3 linked regions of the Homo sapiens genome follow. The protein of the gene in region 2 binds, or shares a complex with, the protein of the main gene of each other region. Each region holds a gene or a part of one and is shown on either strand. Other genes may lie near its edges. A codon is read from its position in the direction of its gene.

Evidence for each region.
Region 1: the proteins of MMP10 (region 2) and TIMP1 are in contact, whole or in part, in a crystal structure (PDB 3V96), measured with the Homo sapiens proteins. Residues at the interface, in NP_002416.1 of Homo sapiens: Phe170 (codon at 1,210), Tyr171 (codon at 1,207), Gly177 (codon at 1,189), His178 (codon at 1,186), Ser179 (codon at 1,183), Leu180 (codon at 1,180), Ala181 (codon at 1,177), His182 (codon at 1,174), Ala183 (codon at 1,171), Tyr184 (codon at 1,168), Pro185 (codon at 1,165), Tyr191 (codon at 1,147), Asp205 (codon at 1,105), Ala206 (codon at 1,102), Ser207 (codon at 1,099), Gly208, Val214, His217, Glu218, His221, Phe226, His227, Thr231, Tyr236, Pro237, Leu238, Tyr239, Asn240, Phe242, Thr243; in NP_003245.1 of Homo sapiens: Cys24 (codon at 5,196), Thr25 (codon at 5,199), Cys26 (codon at 5,202), Val27 (codon at 5,205), Pro28 (codon at 5,208), Asn37 (codon at 5,235), Leu57 (codon at 6,694), Tyr58 (codon at 6,697), Pro87 (codon at 6,973), Met89 (codon at 6,979), Glu90 (codon at 6,982), Ser91 (codon at 6,985), Val92 (codon at 6,988), Cys93 (codon at 6,991), Arg98 (codon at 7,006), Thr121, Cys122, Cys155, Leu156, Ser157, Ile158, Gln173, Leu174, Gly177, Ser178, Glu179, Lys180.
Region 3: the proteins of MMP10 (region 2) and TIMP2 are in contact, whole or in part, in a crystal structure (PDB 4ILW), measured with the Homo sapiens proteins. Residues at the interface, in NP_002416.1 of Homo sapiens: Glu155 (codon at 1,718), Asp169 (codon at 1,213), Phe170 (codon at 1,210), Tyr171 (codon at 1,207), Ser172 (codon at 1,204), Pro176 (codon at 1,192), Gly177 (codon at 1,189), His178 (codon at 1,186), Ser179 (codon at 1,183), Leu180 (codon at 1,180), Ala181 (codon at 1,177), His182 (codon at 1,174), Ala183 (codon at 1,171), Tyr184 (codon at 1,168), Pro185 (codon at 1,165), Pro188 (codon at 1,156), Gly189 (codon at 1,153), Leu190 (codon at 1,150), Tyr191 (codon at 1,147), Val214, His217, Glu218, His221, His227, Pro237, Leu238, Tyr239, Phe242; in NP_003246.1 of Homo sapiens: Cys27, Ser28, Cys29, Ser30, Pro31, Val32, Gln36, Ala37, Asn40, Ser57, Gly58, Asn59, Asp60, Tyr62, Asn64, Pro65, Ile66, Lys67, Arg68, Thr91, Ala92, Pro93, Ser94, Ser95, Ala96, Val97, Cys98, His123, Leu126, Cys127.

The regions. Positions count from the first base shown.
Region 1 is NC_000023.11:47,578,290-47,585,435, forward strand, and holds the start of TIMP1 (metalloproteinase inhibitor 1 precursor), read left to right. Parts: upstream 1-4,146; 5' UTR 4,147-4,185; intron 4,186-5,118; 5' UTR 5,119-5,126; coding exon 5,127-5,247; intron 5,248-6,646; coding exon 6,647-6,726; intron 6,727-6,915; coding exon 6,916-7,042; intron 7,043-7,146. UniProt on the Homo sapiens protein: Metalloproteinase inhibitor that functions by forming one to one complexes with target metalloproteinases, such as collagenases, and irreversibly inactivates them by binding to their catalytic zinc cofactor.
Region 2 is NC_000011.10:102,777,529-102,785,563, forward strand, and holds the start of MMP10 (stromelysin-2 preproprotein), read right to left. Parts: upstream 3,101-8,035; 5' UTR 3,064-3,100; coding exon 2,959-3,063; intron 2,218-2,958; coding exon 1,976-2,217; intron 1,834-1,975; coding exon 1,685-1,833; intron 1,222-1,684; coding exon 1,096-1,221; intron 1-1,095. UniProt on the Homo sapiens protein: Can degrade fibronectin, gelatins of type I, III, IV, and V; weakly collagens III, IV, and V. Activates procollagenase.
Region 3 is NC_000017.11:78,915,343-78,922,443, reverse strand, and holds part of TIMP2 (metalloproteinase inhibitor 2 precursor), read left to right. Parts: intron 1-7,101. UniProt on the Homo sapiens protein: Complexes with metalloproteinases (such as collagenases) and irreversibly inactivates them by binding to their catalytic zinc cofactor. Known to act on MMP-1, MMP-2, MMP-3, MMP-7, MMP-8, MMP-9, MMP-10, MMP-13, MMP-14, MMP-15, MMP-16 and MMP-19.

The sequences.
Region 1 (7,146 bases), on a different chromosome or scaffold from region 2:
AGGCACACTCCACAGAACCGGGCACATACTCAACACACAGGCACACATAAAACACCCCTAGGCAAATGCACAGCAAATAAGGCCCTACACAACACACAGAGGTGTATGCACTTCTAGGTATTCACATCACCACTGGGACCCGTAAGAGACCCACGCCACATTCCTGGGCATACAAAAAGTATATCTAGACACACACACAACATGCCTTGCCACATATACAATACAGAGAGGCTACACACAACCAGAGACACCCACAACTCAGTTTGCAGAAAACATTCCTGGGCACTCCCACCCCAACACACATACAGTCACACATTCAGGCGAGAGGGATACCTCAAGTCTCCCCCGCTCCTGGATGGGGTAGAGGAAACCAGGTTGGACGGCCCTAGGCTCCCCGCTCCCTCCACCCCCACCCCCACAGCACAGCTGCACAGTGCCCCTCTGGTGGCCCTCCCTCTCGCTGACAAGGTAGAGAGATGGCATTCCCGGAGGGGCTGCTGGGGCGGTGGTGGTTCCCAGTTCCCGACAGGCACAGGAAGCCCGCAGACTCAGGGTGACCGATTGACCTTAAGGCCTCCCTCTGCACACCCCCCCTTCCTCATTTCCCAAATGACTGGCGTCATTATGAGGTGGGCTGAGAGGCACGATGTTGGGACGGGGGTTTGGGGCATCTCTGGGCAGCGGGCCAGGGAAACGATGCCGAGGCGGATGCATACAGTACCACCCAGGTGTGCGCACAGCACACAGAAGTGCATAATGCACTCAGTTACATATGCAACCCAGATCCGCTTTGCCGAGGCTGGTAGACAACTCCCAGAAGTAACACACAAAACACACAGGCACATGCTCGACTCTTAGCAATGGACACACAACACACCAGAGAGCTGTGCGTACACACCCATACCTCCCCCAACAACCCTGAGGTTTCTAGGTGCCTCTTTTCGTTAACTGTCCTTGTTTTCTCTGGACTTGAGCCTGAACACAACGCTCTGTATATGTGTGTGTGCCCATACATGTGTGCATGCAGAGTGCTTTGAACTCTGACTCTGGGAGCTCCTGGAAAGCCCTAGGTCTGAATTTTGGCCTTTCTTCTTCCTAAGGCCATGAAGGACACAACCTCTCCCTGAGCCTCAGTTTCCCCATCTGCACAAAGAGCACAATGAGGCCCAAGCACCTGGTATGCTGTGGGCATTGTCAGGTGTCCGCTTTGCACATGCCTCCTGGACCCCCATGGGCCCCCACACCCATCCAGCTCCCCAGATGGTCACACACCCCTCCATGAACACCCCTCCCACTCTCCATTTCAAAACTGCACAATAACCGGATCCACACGACTCCTCATGTAAACAGTCGGCAACACTCTGTGCTGACTCAGGTTTCAAAGAGTTGGCGTCAGAACCAGAGTCAGCGAGGGGCCAAGGCAGGACTTCCCCTGCCCTCACTTCTCCCTCGGAGGCACCAGGTTACTCAGCCCCGTCTCATTCACTCTCACTGTCCCACTTTCATAATCAGCTCCTACAGATTTTTTTGGTTTACTTCCCTTCCTCCCTGTTTTTGTCGCCCCCCCACCCTCCCCCCACCACCCCGCAGCAGAGCCATTTCTTCATTCTCATTCCTGGGTAGGTCACTCAGCCCTTTTGTGTCTAAGTTTCCTCATCTGTATAATGAGAACATGAGCTATATCTAACTCACAGGGATATTGTGAGAAATAAGTTAGTTATTTTGGGAAAAATGCTCTACATGGTATCGGGCATACAGTAAGCCTCGATCCTCAAGAAGTGTTGGGTACTCTTATTATTGGCTTAACATCTCTTCCTTAACTAACATTAATGAACAAAGAGGCAATCGGGATTGATTAAATGAGATAATGTCTGTAAAAAGACTTTAGAACAGTGCTTTTTTTTTTTTTTTTAAATAGAGACAGGGTTTCACCATGTTGCCCAGACTGGTCTTGAACTCCTGAGCTCAAGCGATCTGCCTGCCTCAGCCTCCCAAAGTGCTGGGATTACAGGTGTGAGCCACCATGCCCGGCCAAGTGCTTTCTTAAAAAATAGATTTAGGCTGGGTGCCGTAGCTCACGCATGTAATCGCAGCACTTTGGGAGGCTGAGGTGGGCGGATCACCCGAGGTCAGGAGTTTGAGACCAGCCTGGCCAACATGGTGAAACCCCGTCTCTACTAAAAATACAAAAATTAGCCAGGCGTGGTGGCGTGTGCCTGTAACCCCAGCTACTGAGGAGGCTGAGGCAGGAGAATTGCTTGAACCCAGGAGGTGGAGGTTGCAGTGAGCCAAGATCTTGCCATTGCACTCCAGCCTGGGAAACAAGATCGAAACTCTGTCTAAAAAAAAAAAAAAGATTTAGAAGGCCGGGTGTGGTGGCTCACGCCTGTAATCCCAACACTTTGGGAGGTCGAGGCAGGTGGATCACCTGAAGTCAGGAGTTCGAGATCTGACCAATATGGTGAAACCCCCGTCTCTACTAAAACTACAAAAATTAGCTGGGGGTGGTGGTGGTGTGGCTGTAATCCCAGCTACTCAGGAGGCTGAGACAGGAGAATCTCTTGAACCCCGGAGGCGGAGGTTGCAGTGAGCTGAGATCGCGCCACTGCACTCCAGCCTAGGTGACAGAGCAAGACTCTTGTCAAAAAAAAAAAATAGATTTAGAGGGTACAGCTGCAGTTTTGTGACATGGATATATTACATAGTGGTGAAGTCTGGGCTTTTAGTGTCCCCATCAACCAAATAGTGTACATTGTACCCATTAGGCAATTTCTCATCCCTCACATTCCTCCCACCCAGAATAGTGCTGGATACGCAGTAAGCACTCCATAAGGGCTGCTGGTAGTTTTTGTTGTGTTCTTGTTATTGGGCTATCATCCCTGAGTTAATCAAACTTAATTAGCAAGGGAGTATGGTGAGTGAATGAGATAATTTATACAAACACTTTAGCACATAGTACACAGAAAGTGCTCAATAAGTGGCTGCCATCATCACTACAATTATTATTATTGATCTATCCTCCTCGAATTAAGGATGTTAATCAGAACCCCAGGGAAGGTTCCTGCATTGTCAGAAAGCTGGTGGGCAAGGATTGCCCCACCCCACCCCCCACCAGGGGTACAGGTCCATGGGGAGGGGGCAGGGCAGGATGGGGTGGGGATTAGTTTTCTACTGACCCACTCACTTGCTTCTTTCACCATCATTCATGGCCACCCCCTTCCCAATGCTCATTCATTCACCCGCACCATTCCCTGCTTGCTAGGACGGTGCCACTCCTGAGTTACAACCCTGGTGCCAGGTAGCCTCTGTTTGAATCCCGGCCATGCCCTGTGATCTTAGGAAAATTCTACAGTTCCTCTACGCCCCATATTTCCTCATCCGTAAAACGGGAATAAGAACCGGTACCCATCTCAGAGATTTGTTGTGAGCTTTGAGTGAGATAAACTATGCTGAGTGCCTGGTATACAGTAGGTGCTGTATAAATGCCGGCTATTTGCCTGTGTTATTTGAGACCCTGGCTTTGGCTCCTGGCCACCTGAGTTCCAGTCTCAGTTCTGCCATGTATTGACTCTGTGATCCTGGGTAAGTCACTTAACCACTCCGTGCCTCAGTTTCCCCATTTTGTATTCCTCCCCTTTCACCTGCCTTATCTCCCTCCACTGCTGCTACTTAATTTGTTTCCTCTCTGCCACCCCTCACCAGCATGTCAGACATACAAAACAAGGGATTTTTGTGTGCTTGGCACACAGTAGATGCACAATAAATGTTGAAGGGCTGAACTAATTTGGGTTTGAGTCATAGGGAGCTTGGGGGATGTGGGTGATTGGATAGATTCTGGAGACTTTAGGGGACTGGGCCGGGGGAAATGCGGCCTCTAAGCTCTCCGCTGAGGCGGCTTGGAAGGAATAGTGACTGACGTGGAGGTGGGGGAGGTGGCTGGCCCGGGCGAGGCCCAGGGAGAGGGAGAGGAGGCGGGTGGGAGAGGAGGAGGGTGTATCTCCTTTCGTCGGCCCGCCCCTTGGCTTCTGCACTGATGGTGGGTGGATGAGTAATGCATCCAGGAAGCCTGGAGGCCTGTGGTTTCCGCACCCGCTGCCACCCCCGCCCCTAGCGTGGACATTTATCCTCTAGCGCTCAGGCCCTGCCGCCATCGCCGCAGATCCAGCGCCCAGAGAGACACCAGAGGTAAGCAGGGCCCGGGGTGGCCCAGCAGGGACCGGAGCTGGGCTGCAGCTTGGGTGCTGGCCACCAGGCCCGTGCACTCCCGTGCCAGATGCCTGTCTACTCAGCTTGGCCTGCGGGTACCAGGACCCTGGGCTAGTCTAGGGGGAAGAGGGTCGGAGGCTGGAACTGCTTTCCCAACCCCGAGGCTCCAAACTCCCTAGAACCCCTGACATCCGCCCCCAATTCCCCCAAACCCATGACCCCCTAATATCACAAATGCTTTCCAAATCCCCCCGCAAATTCCTTCATCCCGAAATTTCCCTCATCGCCCCCTAAATACCCACCGCTAACCCCTGCAGCTCCCTAAACTCCCCCAGCTCCCCAATCCCCAGTTCCCCAGCTCCCAAACTTCTTTTGCCCTCAAATTCCTCAAGTATCCCCATTGCCTTAAGCCCCCAAATTCCCCCAACCCCTTCAACCTCCAAACTCCCCCAGCTCCCTAAACCCCCAACCTCCTCCAAATTCCTCAACCTCCCTAAATTCCCCCAGCCTCTTATATCTCTTAATATACACAACCCCTAAACTCTGCCGTCTCCAAACTCCTCCAGCCCCCAATCCCAAATTCCTCACCCCCAAACTCCTCAACCTCCAGAATTCCCCAATCCCCTCATTCCTCAAACTTCCTCAGCCCCCTTCTCCCCCAAGTGCCACAACCCCATAACCCCGCAACTCACTCAGTCCCTCAATAATTTAAACTCTCCCAACTCTCTAAACCCTAAATTCCTCTGCGCTCCCCAATCCCCTTAAAATCCCTAAGCTTACCAACCCCTCAAGCCCAAATCCAGCCCCCTAATCCCCCCCATAGGCTGCCCCGGGGCAAGATGGGGTGGATGACCTGCCCAGGTCAGCAGATCAGCTGGGCCGGGGCCTGCCTGACATCCCCCTTCCCCACAGAACCCACCATGGCCCCCTTTGAGCCCCTGGCTTCTGGCATCCTGTTGTTGCTGTGGCTGATAGCCCCCAGCAGGGCCTGCACCTGTGTCCCACCCCACCCACAGACGGCCTTCTGCAATTCCGACCTCGGTGAGTCCTCACCCCACTCAGCCCACACACTCTGCCTTGGTTTCCCTTTCAGTCCAGTGGGGCTCACCATGGCACTTACCTCTAGAATGATTCCACTCGCCCCTGCACTTCCTCTGCTTTAGCCACACTGGCATCCTCACACTTCCTTGAGTACTCTGTGCCCAAGCCCACCACAGGATCTGCATGCTGGCTGCTCCCTCTGCCTGGTACACTTTCCCCCCAGGTATCCACATGGGTGGCTGCCTCAAACGTCACCTTCTCAGGATGGCCTTCCCTGGCCATCCTGTTTAAAATTTTAACCCCTGCCCCTTAGTACTCCTGATCTCCTGTTAAACAGAAAAATATTCAGTGATACTTGTTATAACACAGTAAGGAAGACCATATTCAGGACCATGGTGATGGGTATAGGAACCACTGCAATGGGATCTTGCAGTCGGTGGGAGAGATTGGGCTCAACACTGAATATAGCATGGGCCAGTGGGAATGTGTAGCTAAGGAGCAGTGTGAGGGTCTGTGGGTGGAAATTACTAAGAAGAAACATCAGGGGTAAGGGGGATTCTGGCTAAACCGACGTAACAGGATTCTTGCTGAAGGCAGGCCAAGGGGAATCAGACATCACCTGGGGGATGGTGGAAGATGAAGAACCCAGTCAGATAGCAAGGATGATCAGGTATTGAGGATGATCAGAGATTGAGGATGATCAGAGATTGAGGATGATCAGGTATTGAGGATGATCAGAGATTGAGGATGATCAGGTATTGAGGATGATCAGAGATTGAGGATGATCAGGTATTGAGGATGATCAGAGATTGAGGATGATCAGATATAGAATATAGGGGTTCTTGCTAAACTGACTTAGCAAGGCTCTCGGCTAAAACTGGATTTTACAAGGAAGTGCACAGATGGGCCTAGGAGGAGGTTCAGGAGCCTGAGTAAAGTTTGGTCAAGCAAAGAATCTTTGTCAGCCCCTTACCCAGGTCTGTAATTCCCCATTATACTTAATGTCTAACATTCCATATCCTTATTTTGTTTGTTCTTAGCCTGTCTCCTCCTGGCTAGAATGTGAACTCCACAAGGAAAGGGATTTCTGTGTTTTGTTCACTGTTGTGTCCCTAACACCCAGAACAATGTCTGGCACACAGTGGGCACTCCCAAATATTTGAGGAGTAAATGAACAAATCAATGTATGAAAATGGCTTAAGCAGTGCCCGGCAAAGAGAGACACTCAACATACAGATGAATCAATGAACAAATGTGTAAATCACTTTGTGTGCTGTCTGGCATCCAATAACCCCTATTTATGTATGCGCTTTGCTGGTATGATGATGATGATGATGATGATCTTATTTTTATTGGCTCATGCAGTCCATTTGACTCATATTTCCCTCCTCTCCTGCAGTCATCAGGGCCAAGTTCGTGGGGACACCAGAAGTCAACCAGACCACCTTATACCAGCGTTATGAGATCAAGATGACCAAGGTATCCCCTGCCCCCGCCTCTTTCCCAGCATTTTCTAACATCTTCCTCCTGGTCAAAACAGAAACTTCTGGCCACTGGTTGGTGCGAGAAAGTTGGCTGTGATCTTGGGATGCTATATGACTTCAGGGAAGAACCTGGAGTGGGAGGATTATGTCAGTAAAAGAGACACTTCCCCTCATCCATCAACAGATGTATAAAGGGTTCCAAGCCTTAGGGGATGCCGCTGACATCCGGTTCGTCTACACCCCCGCCATGGAGAGTGTCTGCGGATACTTCCACAGGTCCCACAACCGCAGCGAGGAGTTTCTCATTGCTGGTGAGGCACCGTCCCCGCGCCCTGTGCCACACCAACCAGTCCCTGGGGCGCGGCCTAGCAACCACGAGGGGGCGAGGCTCTGATGGGAATGGTCCCACTGGAAA
Region 2 (8,035 bases):
ACAGGCATTAGCCACTGGTGCCTGGCCATAATCAAATAATTTTTGATTGTCAAAAATCTTCCCAGTAATAGGTGCCATTGGATGTGTACAATCTTTAGTTTAAAACAGAAACATGCCCAATAACAGTTTTCTGCAGCACAAACACAGCTAGATTCAGCTTTTTAAAAATATTATAAAAAGGGTTTTATTGAATTTAGTAGTAGATATTATTTAACCAAGGCTCCAAGAATTGTGCAGAAAAGAACAGTTGTTCAAATAAAAGGCAATCATTTCATGCAACACAAACTTCAGTCTCGTGAGACAGAGTCTCACTCTGTTGCCCAGGCTGGAGTACAGTGGTACAATCTCGGCTCACTGCAGCCTCCATCTCCTGGGTTCAGTGATTCTCGTGCCTCAGCCTCCTGAGTCTTGTACTCAGGAAAGATGTTCTTTGCATTTACATTAAAAATCCCAGGCACTGTCAGAAATAGTGATTATTTCAACAGTGTGTTTCTAAACTTCAGAAGCCATTTTAAAAATTAAATAGCATACAGTTAATTTTAGTCATTATGTTTAGATGTAAAGTGTTTCCAAGCCAATTTAGGGCGAAAAAAACCCATCTAAGCTAGAGACAGTGACATGTTTATTCGAAAAGATGACCTAACAGTTTTTTTTCAGTTCCTGGCATTTTCTCCTGATCTCTACTTTTAAGTAAAAAGGAGGCCAATGAGAAGAAAGAAAGAAAACCTGAGGGCAAATGTTAGGATTGGAACTGGTTTAATGGAATTCATTCTATCCTAATCATCTATCATTAAAGTGATGAAAAACATTATTAATTATGCTGATCCTCAAACCCCCACAAGATCCTGAGTTGTGGAGATGAGGTTGAATGGTTTTTACAATATTGTACTTGGTGGGGGCAAACATGAAAATACAGACATTTTATAAAATTCTTCAATAATGATTGAAACAAACAGTACTTCTGTTTAAAACTCAGGTAATAAAAAAATTCAGTTACTAGTATATTCGATTTATTGCTCGTTCTAGATAATCCAATTATTTTTGGGTAGGATTGGACATTATTCCTGAAATGTTCCCGAGAGGTTTACGACCCACCTGATGCATCTTCTGTCCATTTTTCATCATCATCAAAGTGAATATCTCCATAAAGCCCAGGTCCAGGTGGGTAGGCATGAGCCAAACTGTGTCCTGGGCCATCAAAAGAGTAAAAGTCTCCATGTTCTGATAGGGAACAAATTAATGGAAATATAAGTGTTCAGAATTTCTTTTTACCCTGTTCCAATTAAACAACAGTAGATTCTATAGTCTGAATGTTGGTGTCTGCTGCAAATTCATATGTTGAAACTCAATGCCCAATGAAATATAGTATTAAGAGGTTAGGTCTTTAGGAAGTGATTATGTCGTAAGTGCTCTGCCCTCATGAATGAGATTAGTGCTTTTATGAAAGAAGCTTGAGGGAACCTCCTGGCCCTTTCTATCGTGTGAGGACACAGAAGGTACCATCTATGAGGAATAGGCTCTCATCAGACACTAAATCTGCTGGCACCTTAATCTTGGACTTCCCAGCCTCCAGAATTGTGAGCAATAAATTTCTGTTGTTTATAAATTACCCAGTCTAAGGTAACTTGCTATAGCAGTCTGAACAGATGAATACACCAGATAAATGGATGCTTTATTTGATTACCTTTAACTGCAAAAGAGATCATTATATCAGCCTCTCCTTCATACAGCCTGGAGAATGTGAGTGGAGTCACCTCTTCCCAGACTTTCAGAGCTTTCTCAATGGCAGAATCAACAGCATCTCTTGGCAAATCTGGTGTATAATTCACAATCCTGGAGGAGAAAAATTGAAGAGGATGTTATTTTCTCCTGCCTTTATGAAAAATTGTTAAAGAAAACTTTATGTTACTTATCCAAATATGACGAGTAACTTATAAGGTTTCAATATTATGTGAAAACTAATCTGAACCATTACCTGTATGTAAGGTGGGTTTTCCTCCACTTCGGCATGCCAGGAAAGGAGCTGAAGTGACCAACGTCAGGAACTCCACACCTGGGCTTGCGCATCACCTCCAGAGTGTCAGTGTCTAGCTTCCCTGTCACCTCCAACCCAAGGAACTTCTGCATTCCTTGGATTTTTTTAACAATGAGATTACTGTCCTTTCTTCTAAACTGTTTCACATCCTTTTCGAGGTTGTAGTACTTTTCTAGGTATTGCTAATGGAAAATAGAATTTTTAGGGCATTTTTGTGATTTTCCATCATTTATCCAACTTTTATAATCCATCGTAATTTTCCTCTAGTTTCTTAAAACAAAAGAGGCTATCACATTTAATTTGATTTTTCATTAAGACTCCCCATTTCATACAAATTTTTAAATTTTATTGCAATGTTAGTTTGCTAGTCAAGTAAGGAATTGGGGATTGAAAATTCAAGTCTAGCATTATTTTTGTTAGTTTTTAAAGAAACCCTCTTTTAACATAGTTTTGTGAAAAGTTAGAATACTAACCTTTTCTACTTACATTGTTATTATAGACCTGGTTTAAGACTGAAGTGTGGTAAACTCTTTTGTCCAAATATGACAAGTAAAAATATGAAAACTATTACCTGATATGATTTAAAGATCAAACTTAGCATGCTCCCCTCCCCAATAATTTTAACTAAATAAATTCTAAAGCCAGAGGAGTTTCATATATTCTCCATATGTTCTTTTCACTTAGCCACAAATATACTGCTACTATTTTATTGTAACCTTGAGCAGTTATATTCCCTTTCTGAACCTTTCTTTTCTTCTCTGTTAACATAAAAATAATTTCCACCTCCAGCCTGTTAATTATTCTCTGATGCTACAGTTTTCTAACAAAGTGATCTCTAGTCTAATCATTCTGCTTTGTATTGGAAGACCAAGTAGACACAATTGAGCTGGCCAGTAGCTGCAATAGATGCCACCGTTAATTACCTGGGCAAGATCCTTGTTGGAGTCCTCCTCTTTTGCTGCCCCACTCAGAGGATAGGCAGAGCAGACTGGCAGACACAACAGCACAAGGAATGCAAGATGCATCATTCTCACTGCCCTTACCTTCTTTGTCTACTGGGCTTCTAGCTCTACCCCCTAGTGGCCTTTCTTTTATACAGAGACAATGCTGAGATCACCAACAGTATGATTCATGCATGTGTTTTTTAAGTCTGAATGTTCACAAACATTTAATGTAATGGTGATACAGCCTACATCAGTATTTTCCTTCAACTTTCTAAACTTGAAAGAATGATTAATCCCCAGGAAATGATTTCTGTGTTTGTAAAGACGAAAAAGAATTGGCTAGATAATTCACGTCTCTGTATTTACTTAAAGAGAGCTGACAAGCTTGGTAAAATGCCAAATGTTTTGACATTTTAAAATCAGTGCAATTTTCTTTTAAGAAGATTATGTTTTAAACTTAAATATAAGCAGGTAAGAATTAAGTAGGTCAACGGAAATAAATTCCAAATATAGTCGTGGTCTAAATGTGGGAGTTGTTATTTACAAAGATATTAAAACAAATATTTCACTTCTTGAGTCCTTGTTTACAATAGCTATTATTGATTTTCAGATGGATTTACTGGCCGTGGAGTAGGGGTATTGTGAGAAGGACATGGAGCATGTAGAGAAAAGAATCCAAAGAGAGAAGCTTTGGTGTTCACTCATTCTCCATTTCCCAGTGTATAATTATGTTCAAAGTAACTGCTCCATAAAACTTGTTAAATGGAAAAAATTAAATTGCATGTTAGACTGAAATGGTCCTCCTACCCTCTTCCTCTTCTTTGCTTTTAAAAATTCTTTTCCCCCTTTCTTTCTCCTCTTAAGGTACAAAGGAGGAGATGGATTGAGATCTGTAATGGGAAATGATTTCAAATCCTCCCTTTCTTTCACATGTCTAACGATCCACCCCTGCCCACAAATAGTATTTTCTTTCTTGTTTTCTCAGCCAAATAAAGTGCTTTTTACGCAGTAACACAGTAAGTCTGCAATAACTGTTTTGTCAAATTAACCTGTTAATATAAAGAACCCTGAAATTCTTATAGTAAAGAACTATATTTTTCTCTCACTAAAGATAAATTAACTCTACCATGTCTGAAGTACATAATTGCAAAGTGATGAGAGATTAAAATAATAAGTGTGTAGGAATGATCTTTTCAGTATCGCCCACCATCCCCACCCTACTTAAGGTAGCCTGGACAGGTGAGACTTCCAGGAACCAAGAGGCTCTGAGACTTCCAAGCCAGAGTTGGAGAGAAACTGGGATATACACTGAGCCAGCCAAGTCAACTTGTGACTTACTGTTGCCAAAGAGTTTGCTCTACAGTGTGGTGACATCAGCTTGAATATCAGAGGGAGAAGGACTGACAACTAGACTCAAATAAAGTCAGCTGGACATTGAGCAAGTACAGTCAGGCACTGTATAATGTTTCAGTCAACAATGGACCACATATATGATGGTGGTCCCATATGATTATAATGGAGCTTGATATGGTTTGGATCTGTGTCCCTGCCCAAATCTCATGTCGAACTGTCATTCCCAGTGTTGGAGGTGAAGCCTGGTGGGAGGTGATTGGATCACGGGGGCGGATTTCTCATGCCCATTTAGCACCATCCCATCGGTGATGTTCTTGTCATAGTGAGTGAGTGAGTTATCATGAGATCTGGATGTTTAAAAGTGTGTAGCACCTAGCCCCTCTCTTTCTTCTCCTGCTCTGGCCATGTAAAGTGCAGGCTCCTCTTTTGCCTTCCGCCATGATTGTAAGTTTCCTGAGGCCTCCCCAGAAGAAGGTGCCACCATGGTTCTCATATAGCCTGCAGAACCGTGAACCAATTAAATCTCTTTTCTTTATAAGTTACCCAGTCTCAGGTATTTTTGATAGCAATGCAAGAACAAACTAATACAGAGCTGATAAGCACCCATCAGCTATTGTCATTGTAGCCAACATAATGTCATAGTACAATACATTACCCATGTGTTTGTGATGATGCTGGTGTAAGCAAACCTACTGTGCTGCCATACGAAAGTCTAGCACATGCAATTGTGTACAGTACATAATTCTTGATAATAGTGATAAATGACTGTTTATGCATTTACTATACATTTTATCATTTATTTTAGAGTGTACCTTTTTTTTAAAAGTTAACTGTAAAACTGCTTCAGGCAGGTCCTTCAGAAGGCATTCCATGGTTACTGCCCTATGCAGGCATTATTATCATAGGAAACGACAGCTGCATCAGCGTTACTGCCCTGAAAGACCTTCTAGTGGAACTTGATGTGAAGGTAGAAAACAGTGATATTGATGATCCTGATCCTGTGTAGGCCTGGGCTAATTCGTGTTTTGTGTCTTCATTCTCAAAAAATAGTTTAAAAAATAAAAAAAATTAAAGATAGTAGAAAGCTTATAGGATAAGGATATCAAGAAAAAAATATTTTTGTACCTCTGTGAAACGTTTGTGTTTAACCTAAGTGTTATTACAAAAGAGTCAAAAAAAGTTTTAAATTAAAAAGTTTATAAAGTAAAAAAGTTACTACAGTAAGCTAAGGTTAATTTATATTGATGAAAGAAAAATGCTTTTATAAATTTAGTGTAGTCTAGGCATACAATGTTCATAAAGTCTACATAGTGTACAGATTCACTCACCACTCACTCACTGACTCACTTAGAGCAACTTCCAGTCTGGCAAGCTTCATTCCTGGTTAGTGCCCTATATAGTTGTACCATTTTTTATCTTTAATACCATCTTTTTATTGTATTTTTTAATGTTAAAATATGTGTAGATACAGTAATATTTATTATTATGTTACAATTGCCTCCAGTATTCAGTAGAATTTCATGCTGTATAGGTTTGTAGCCTAGGAGTAATAGGCTTGCTGGGCATGGTGGCTGACACCTCTACTCTCAGCTACTTGGAAGGCTGAGATGGGAGGATAACTTTCCCCAAGAAATTTTTAAAAGGCTATACCACATAGTCTAGGCATGTAGTAGGCTGTACCATAGAGGTTTGTGTAAGTTTAATCCATGGTGTTTGCACAATGGATAAATTGCCTAAGGACATGTTTCTTAGAATGTGTCCCCATTGTTAAGTCACACATGACTGTGTGTAATTAATTCAGGCCATTATTTTGTCATCTGTAAAATGGGGTGGATATAACCACACTCACAAAGTTATTTTGTATGCTTTATGCTGGGGAACAAATCTCTTCTTATTTCACTCCAACACCTTTAACAGACAAAGCTTGTTGGCCTGACAAATCTGTGACAATGCCCCTAGGCCCTGATTTGACAAGCTGTGAGATGCCCATTTTCGCTTGAGTCATAACTTTATTAGTGTTGACACATCCTGTTAATGGATTTTATTATGTGGTAATGATACAATGAAAGTTTACATTGTAGTAATAGCTACGACTATAATTGGGAGCCTATAGGGTAGCACATGCCTCACAGAAATGATGTTAGTGTTTAAACTTGTCCTGCATTAAACCATGACACCTGGTAGAAATTAATGCCCTGGAGCAGGTGAGTCCTATGTTTGTCTTTATATAATTCATTACTTGTTAAACCTACTGAAGTATGTATAGGGTCAGGCAAGGAAGCATACAGAGCTCATACTTAAAGAAAGGTGAAACGCCTGGTATTGAGCTTCCACTGTAGTCAGTTCTTAAATGTGAGTTATTTTTAAACTTCAGAACAACCCAACAAAGTTGAGATTAGAAAAATTGAATAATAAGCTCACGATCAAAAGCTAACAAGTGGGAAGAGATTATTCAGAACTGCCAGAAGAAACCTTCATGACTACAACTTGGATGTTTATCAAAAACTTCTTGGCTTCATTCCATATCTTTGCTATTGTGAATAGTGCTGCGATTAACATACAAGTACAGGTATCTTTTTGACATAATGATTTCTTTTCCTTTGGGTGGATATCCAGTAGTGGGATTGCTGGGTTGAATGGTAGTTCTATTTTTTTGGTCTTTGAGAAATCCTCATACTGTTTGGAATACTATGCAGCCATAAAAAGAATGACGTAATGTCTTTAGCAGTAACATGGATGGAAGTGGAGGTCATTACGTTATGTGAAATAACTTAGAAACAGAAAGTCAAATACTGCATGTTCTGATTTACAAGTGGGAGCTAAATAATGTGTACACATGGATATACTGTGTGGAATAATAGACACTGGGCACTCAAGAGGGTGGGAGGGAAAAGAGGGATGAGAAATTATCTAATGGGGGCACAATGTCTTCTGTTCCAGTGAGAGTTACACTAAAAGCTCAGACTTCAACACTATGCAATATATCCATGTGACAAAACTGCACTTGTACCCCCCAAATATATTTAAAATAATAGTAATAACAAAAGTTTTAAAACAACCTCTTGGCTTGGACCTTGGTTCTTCCCCAGCTTTTTTTCTTTTATGTCTTGACACTGTTCTTTATCTCTCATTCTTTTTTTTTTTTTTTTTTTGAGACAGAGTCTCACTCTGTCTCCCAGGCTGGAGCGCAGTGGCGCAATTTCAGCTCACTGCCAGCTCTGCCTCCTGGGTTCACACCATTCTCCTGCCTCAGCCTCCCGAGTAGCTGGGACTACAGGCGCCCGCCACCACGCCCAGCTAATTTTCTGTATTTTTAGTAGAGACAGGGTTTCACCGTGTTAGCCAGGATGGTCTCGATCTCCTGATCTCATGATCCGCCCGCCTCGGCCTCCCAAAGTGCTGGGATTACAGGCATGAGCCACCGCGCCTGGCCTATCTCTCATTCTTGAACTCACCCCTGAACATGCCTTCAATTTATCTCCTTAGCTTTTGTTCTTTTCTCCCAACTCTCTGATCATCCTGCTAACACAGCTACTTCATTTGATCTATGTTTATCTGTTCTGTCACTTGAAGTTCCTCTTGGCCTGTGCTGCACTGATGTGATCCAGACAGAATGCAGGTCTACAATCCATTGCAATTTCAGTAACTAAGACTGAGAAATGCCTAACGGTTTCTCACTTCCAGTTTATTCAATTCTTGGGAA
Region 3 (7,101 bases), on a different chromosome or scaffold from region 2:
TATTTCCAAATAAGGTCATATTCATAGGATCTGACTAGATGTGCATTTGAGGGGGGACGTAATTCAGCCCATACACCAGGCTGCCTTCTCTTATTCCCAGTCACCCTTTCCGTGCTCAACCAACTTGGGATAAACAACCCAGGACATCCCAGGGTAGGGTCCCGGAACAAATCCCACAGGGACGACAGCGGCCTGTCTATTCTCCAGTGTTCGATTCTCCTCGAAGCGATGCAGGTTTGTGACTTTCTCAGCAATGGTTCCCCATTCTGGCTCAGAGCAGAATTGCCTGGAAGATTCTTAAAGATTGCTCAGGTCTAGGTCCCTTTGCAGATACAGAGGGTCTTGCTCAGACTTCGGCTTTTGCAGTTTTAAAAGGCCCACAGGTGATTTAACCAGGGCTGTGACCCAGGGGTCTCAGAAAGGGGGTACAGTGGAGGTTAATAAAGGCTGGCTTGTTATGTGGCAAGCTGGCTCCTTTTACTCTTGGCTGCATGCAGCCTTGTTAAATGGCTTGGTGTCTACAAGAGGCAATTGGCTTAAGAAACAGTCAGATTTCTGTCTGCCCGGCTGAGGATTTCTGGGAGGTATCTCCCTAGCAGCTCTTGCAGTTGGTAGGACCGGAACTGTGGTCGGCAAAGATAATTCATGATGAGGTGGTGATGTTTAGGATAAGGGATGGTAAGAGGTGACCTGATTTCTTCCTGGAAGGCCCCAGGTCCTTGTCCTTTCCAGCAAGGCCAGCACAAACGGGAAGCATTTTGTGTCTCAGTTACAGTACTGTTCAAATGCGCTGCTGGCCCGGCTCCCTCTCACCCAGTGAAATCCTTCACATCTACTGCCAGCCTGCACAGCTACAGGGATCTGGCTGGAAATTAGCTTTGGGCTCACCATTCAGGCAGTCCCATGCCTGGAGCCACTTAGCCAGCTGAGCTACTTGGCAGACTCGGGCTGCTTGGGCCCGTTTCTGGACTCAAGGGTAAAGCCAGGAGCTCTCTGGATGCAGAGAATAAAACCTCTCCTCTGGCTTGGGTGGCAGTACCTAAGGCCACACATTATCCTAGAAGACCTCTGCGATGACATCTTCCTCACATGTTCCCACCTCCAGAAACTGTCCTCTGCAAATCCCCCGAGGAGCTCCAGCTCCAGCTAGAGAGGGGTCCACAACCAAGAGGGGGAACAACTGCTATTTTCTGGGGTGAACAGCCAAGGGTGACCTGGTTCCTGGGGGACACAGTGACAGGGACCAGACAGATAGTAGGGGCCACCCCAGAAAACACACAGCACGCAGTCAAAAATGGCTCTGTCTTCAGGACACGTGCTCAGGAAAAGCAACACAGCATCAGATTCATGTGAGCTGGGTCAGGCCTTCCATGCGAGGGGGCGGCGTGGCGCTTTTTAAAGAAACTGTTGGCAACTCGTTGTGCGAAGTATGTGATCGATCTGTATTGTCAGTTTTGTTCATCTTGATTTTCATATTGGGCTTGTCTGTGTTTCAACAAGCAATTATGGAGTGGCTGCCTCTGCCCCCGGGGATGTAAGGGAGAAGCAAGACATTGTCCCTGTGGTGGGGGATGCAGGGGGTGGTACATCTTGGCACCAGGCGGTGTGGAAGGGGGTTCCTGCTGCCCGGCGTGGTGAGCAGGCCTCCCCTCCTCAACTGCCCAGGTGTGGTATAAAGTCAGTCCACTCAGTGTGGTTTCGGTAAATAATTAACAACAGATAAACTTTCGAAATAACCAAAATTCAGGAGTAATCATGTGACAATGTGAAATGCATTTGCAAGATGTGAGGATAGAAGGCCCCATGGTAGGTTGAGGAGGGAGCTGTGGGGAGAACTGAGGCTCTTCGGCTTGGTTTTGAACAGCGTCCTTGGAGGGACAGGATCTGTCAGGGGAGTCACTGACCCCTGAATTACTGGCAGCTCCCAAGGCAGGGGGACTGGAAGAGCAGGGAGAGCTGTGCACAGCCTGGAGGTATGGCAGGTGCTGGAAGGAGCTCTCTGGACAACACACGTTTCTCCCTATCTGGGATCTGAGGACAGTGCCAGCCTCAGAGCCTCTCGGGCCTCCCCTATTTGCACCCTTCTGGGGGTGCAGAGCCACGTACGCAGTCCTGGCCTGTCGTTTGTGAGCTGCAGGTGGGCTTGGGTACTGCCTCCCTCCTCCCTGCTGTCGCAGCCAGGTTGCTAGGTAGATGCCACTGGTGTGGGCTGAGAGGTTCAGACTCTGTGGCGACATCTGAGCACATGGAGAACAGGGCATAGATGACTCCTGGGAGACTGAGAGGCGCGGGCAGCCGTCTCCAGTCCTGATGCAGAACCACTGACTCGATGCAGTGGGGGTCGTGTGTAGGGGTGAACGTCTTGGGTTCGGAAACAACAAAGAGGTCTGCCCGAGGCTTCCCAGGCAGCTGCGAGGAGGGATGCAACAGCAGGGAGGAGGAGATAAGAAGGAAGCAAAGACAGGCAGACGTGGCAGTGGCAGGGGCAGGAGGGGTGCATGCCCTGGACACTCTCTCTGTCCCCCGGTGCACGCACAGGCTCACAAACCAGGGACGGAGGGCAAGTGGCTGCATGGCTAGGATGGTCTTCTTTTCTTTTTCTTTTTTTTCGAGATGGAGTCTCACTCTGTCTCCAGGCTGGAGTGCAGTGGCGCTATCTTGGCTCACTGCAAGCTCCGCCTCCCGGGTTCACGCCATTCTCCTGCCTCAGCCTCCCGAGTAGCTGGGACTACAGGTGCCCGCCACCATGCCCGGCTAATTTTTTTGAATTTTTATTAGAGACGGGGTTTCACCGTGTTAGCCGGGATGGTCTCGATCTCCTGACCTCGTGATCCGCCCACCTCGGCCTCCCAAAGTGTTGAGATTACAGGCTTGAGCCACCGCACCCAGCAGATGGTCTTTTTCAAGAGGGGAGGGCAGAGTGAAGAAATCAAGGTAAGGGAGGGTGAAGAAGCCGCATCTGGAGGACGGCACTGGGGACCGTAACCCCTGGTCATTTAGCGGCAGCAGGGTGGGGTGTGCACAGGTGTTCTAAGCCAAGGGACCAACTGCCCCAGGAAAGGTGAGAGTTCTGGGTACAGAGTAGGCCAAAGAGGAGCCTGGGGATTCAGGGGGACCCACAAGGAGATTGGGGCCAAATGTCACGGCTCTGGCTTGTCATGTGACATCTGCATTCCATCCCGGGACCCACGCAGCCACCAAAGATGTTCTGGCTGTGGAATGACAGCGGGCGTTGCCCAGGGAGCCTGGTAGAAGGCAGCCGCCTAACTCCGCGTGCTGGAGCGGGCCTGGGGGTGGCACTGGAGTTTCAGGACTCTCCAGGTGCTGCTGCCGCCCGCCAAAGTTGGCATAGACCAGTCGTCTCCGGAGGGGTGCCCAGTACAGCCTCGGTGCTAAGAATGTTATGAATAGTTAGCATATGGATTCAGAGTTGTACTCCAAATATAATTTTTTTTTTTTTTTTTGAGACGGAGTCTTGCTGTGTCACCCAGGCTGGAGTGCAGTGGTGCAATCACAGATCACTGCAGCTTCAATTTCCTGGCCCAAGCGATTCTCCCACCTCAGTCTCCCAAGCAGCCACCACGCCCAGCTAATTTTTTTAATTTTTTGTAGAGATGGGGTTTCGCCATGTTGCCCAGGCTGGTCTCGAACTCCTGAGCTCAAGTGATCTGCCCACCTTGGCCTCCCAAAGTGCTGGGATTACAGATGTGAGCCACGGTGCCCGGCCTATATATACTTTTTTAATGAATATCTGATATTGTGAGTGCTTGGCCAAGGTTTTGTTTTTGTTGCCCGTGGGTCTGAACAGAAAGTGTGGAGGCTGACCACCTCAGTGTCGGGGGGTGGAGTAAGCAGGCAGATGAGCTGCCCTGAGATTGCTGGGAGGAGGGAAGGCGGGCAGACCCAGACTTCCCAATGGAGAGATGGTCAGGAGCATGGATGTCTCAGAGTGGCAGGCAGGATGAAGCTGGTGTCCCCAGGACCTCCCAGGGCCCACCTGCCTGGACCCCTGCAGCCTGTGCCCTGACGCCCTGGTGCCCTCGTGCATTTGCTGGGACGTGGCTGTGCAGCGGCAGAGGGAAGGGCACAGAGACCCCGCCCCGATGATTCCCACCTTACAACTGAGGGCTGAGCTACTCCCCAGTCAGCCAGGTCAGACTGGAGCCCAGGGAAAGCTTCCGGAGCCCCAGCAAGTCAGGTTGAGAGTGTGTTTACGCTAAGAAGCAAATTGAGGAACAGTCTTTATAAAAGAGGGGTCCTAACCCAGAGTGTGTGAACACCCAGCCAGAGATAGGCCTGGCGGGTTTGGGGGTGGTCACAAGCCCGGAAACTGTAAGTGAAGTTGTGTGTGTGTGTGTGTGTGTGTGTGTGTGTGTGTTTGTGTGTGCACGCGTACGTGTTTTTTTTGTGGACAGTGGCAGCCGCCAACTTCTCAAAGGTGCCTGTGGCCCTCCAAACGTCAAGTCACTGCCATTTAAAAGGAGTCTTTTTATAGGTTTCGAGTCTTCTGTTTCTTGTGAGTATCTGCCTAGTCTCGGAGCTGAGCGATGGTAACGATCTTGCCTTTCTCTCCTCTTCCACCCTCATTCTGCACTCGGCCGCCCTGGGCAGCCAGGATCCGCTCAGACACTACCACCACGAGGGGAGTCCGAGGCAGACCTGTAACCAGCTCTGGGGAAAGGATGCCATCAGTGTCCTTTGGCCTCCTAGCTGGTCTCAGGGATGGCTCCAAAGACCTGGGAGGTTCTGTGGTTGTCTTCCATGGGGAAGACGTCCTTGGTAGACGGCAGCTGCTCTTTGATCTCAAACTCTGATCACAGCTGGACCACACATGGCCTGAGGGAACTCCAGACCTCACCAGTTAGGAAGGGCCTGGTGTCTATGTCTTAGATACCTGCTTCTTACAGAATTTATTCACTTAAGTGTTTTTATATTTTGTTTTACAATAGAATTTGGGTGCCTACCGTACACAGAAATACTATGGCAAGTGTGTCAAGGAATTATTTAGTTTTCTGAGACGGAGTTTTGCTCTGTCGCCCAGGCTGGAATGCAGTGGTGCGATCTTGGCTCACTGCAACCTCCGCCTCCCGGGTTCAAGCAATTCTCCTGCCTCAGCCTCCCGAGTAGCTGGGATTACAGGTGTGTGCTGCCATGCCCAGCTAATTTTTGTATTTTTTTTTTTTTTTTTTTTTGAGACGGAGTCTCGCTCTGTCGCCCAGGCTGGAGTGCAGTGGCGGGATCTCGGCTCACTGCAAGCTCCGCCTCCTGGGTTCACGCCATTCTCCTGCCTCAGCCTCCCAAGTAGCTGGGACTACAGGCGCCCGCCACTACGCCCGGCTAATTTTTTGTATTTTTAGTAGAGACGGGGTTTCACCCTGTCGGCCAGGCTGGTCTCAAACTCCAAAGCCATGGTGCCCATCTTCAAGGAAGTGAGCGCAGGAATGCGAAGATCATCTTGCAGGCTGCACCTCTTGCTAGAGACTCTTACCGAGGTTAGGACACTGTTGAGATTGTGGGCCCTGAGGGGTGGATCTTATCAGAGCTAAGATAAGCCCCGAGGAAAGGTCCTGGGGTGGGTATGGGGAGCCCAGGGTGGCTGTGGTAGAGAGTGTACCACAGGGGGACAGAGTCATTAGAACAAAGTATGGCCAGGCTTGAGCCCAGGTGGAGCAGCAAAGCCTGGAGGCCCGGCAGTGGGACCTGGCAGTGGGACTCCGGGGAAGGCTTTATGGCCCCTGCACTGGGGGAGAGGGGGCAGACAGGAGGGGGATGACACTGAGGAGGAAGGTGGTGTTGAGAGGCTCGCAGTTACCAGGGGAGCAGAGCTCCCACCTGCACTGGGGAAGACCCAGGAGATGGAAGGCAGGCCCTGAGCGGGGCCATGGGTCGCGGGCAGACACAGGAGATGCCTCTGGAGCTTGACCCAGTGCCTGGGAGCCAGATGCCCTCTAACCTGGTCAGGAGCTCAGGCGGGTAGAGGTCTCTGTTGAGTTCTGCTGGAATCTGGTGACCAGAAAGTCTCGGCGAGAGGGATTTGAGCTAGAACTTCAGCAGACAGTGGAAATTGTGTAACGGGGCCTTGGAGGGAACAGGAAACGGAGCATTGAGGGGGAAGGGAGCCAGCAGTAGCGAGGGGAACTGACATTCATAGCAAACAGGGTGAGCGGGGGTCAAATGCTGGCCCCAGATTGAGTCCAGCAGAGCGATCCGGGACAGGTGGCCTCTCTCTGCCCCCACTTCCACACCTCCAAAAAGGAGAGGCGAATTTCCTGCCTCCCAGGAAGCTCTCGGAGCTAGTGGGGGACACCAGCTCTTTCTGCATCAAACCCTGGCTCTCCCTGTCTTTGTGTTCTTGTTCCTCCCCACCCCGCCCTGAGGGAGGCCTGGGAGCAGCCAGGGAGGTGAATCATGACATGGTGATAATGACTATGGCAACAATAACAGCTGGCAGAGGTGCCAAGGGCTTGGAGGTATGTTCTTGCTCTTCACTAGTGTCAACCCATTTCCTTCCCTATCCTCATCCCCATTGTACAGACGATCCAACGGAGGCACAGGCCCACTAAGGAACCTGCTCAGGGTTAGCTGGCTAGGAAATAGCAGAGTAAAAGAAGAGATGGTTTTTAGGCCGGGCACGGTGGAATCATGCCTGGAATCCCAGCACTTGGGGAGGCCGAGGCATGTGGATCGCCTGAGGTCGGGAGTTCAAGACCAGCCTTGCCAACATGGTGAAACTCCATGTCTACTAAAAATAAAAAAATTAGCTGGGCGTGGTGGTGCACGCCTGTAATCCCAGCTACTCGGGAGGCTGAGGCATGAGAATCGCTTGAACCTGGGAAGCAGAGGTTGCAGTGAGCCGACATCGCACCACTGCACTCCTGCCTGGGTGACAGAGTGAGACTCTGTCTCAAAAAAAAAAAGAAGAAAAAAAGAGAGAGAGACGGCTTTTAAAAGGAGGTACATCAACAGAATGGTGCTGATTCAGACTGATACTGGCTTGGGGATGAATGGTCTAGGCTGTGGAGCTGGGCTGAAGCTCTACAGGTGACGGATGGAGCCACTGAGGAGGGAGAGGAGCTCCTGAGGCTGGCCTTGTTCATGAGG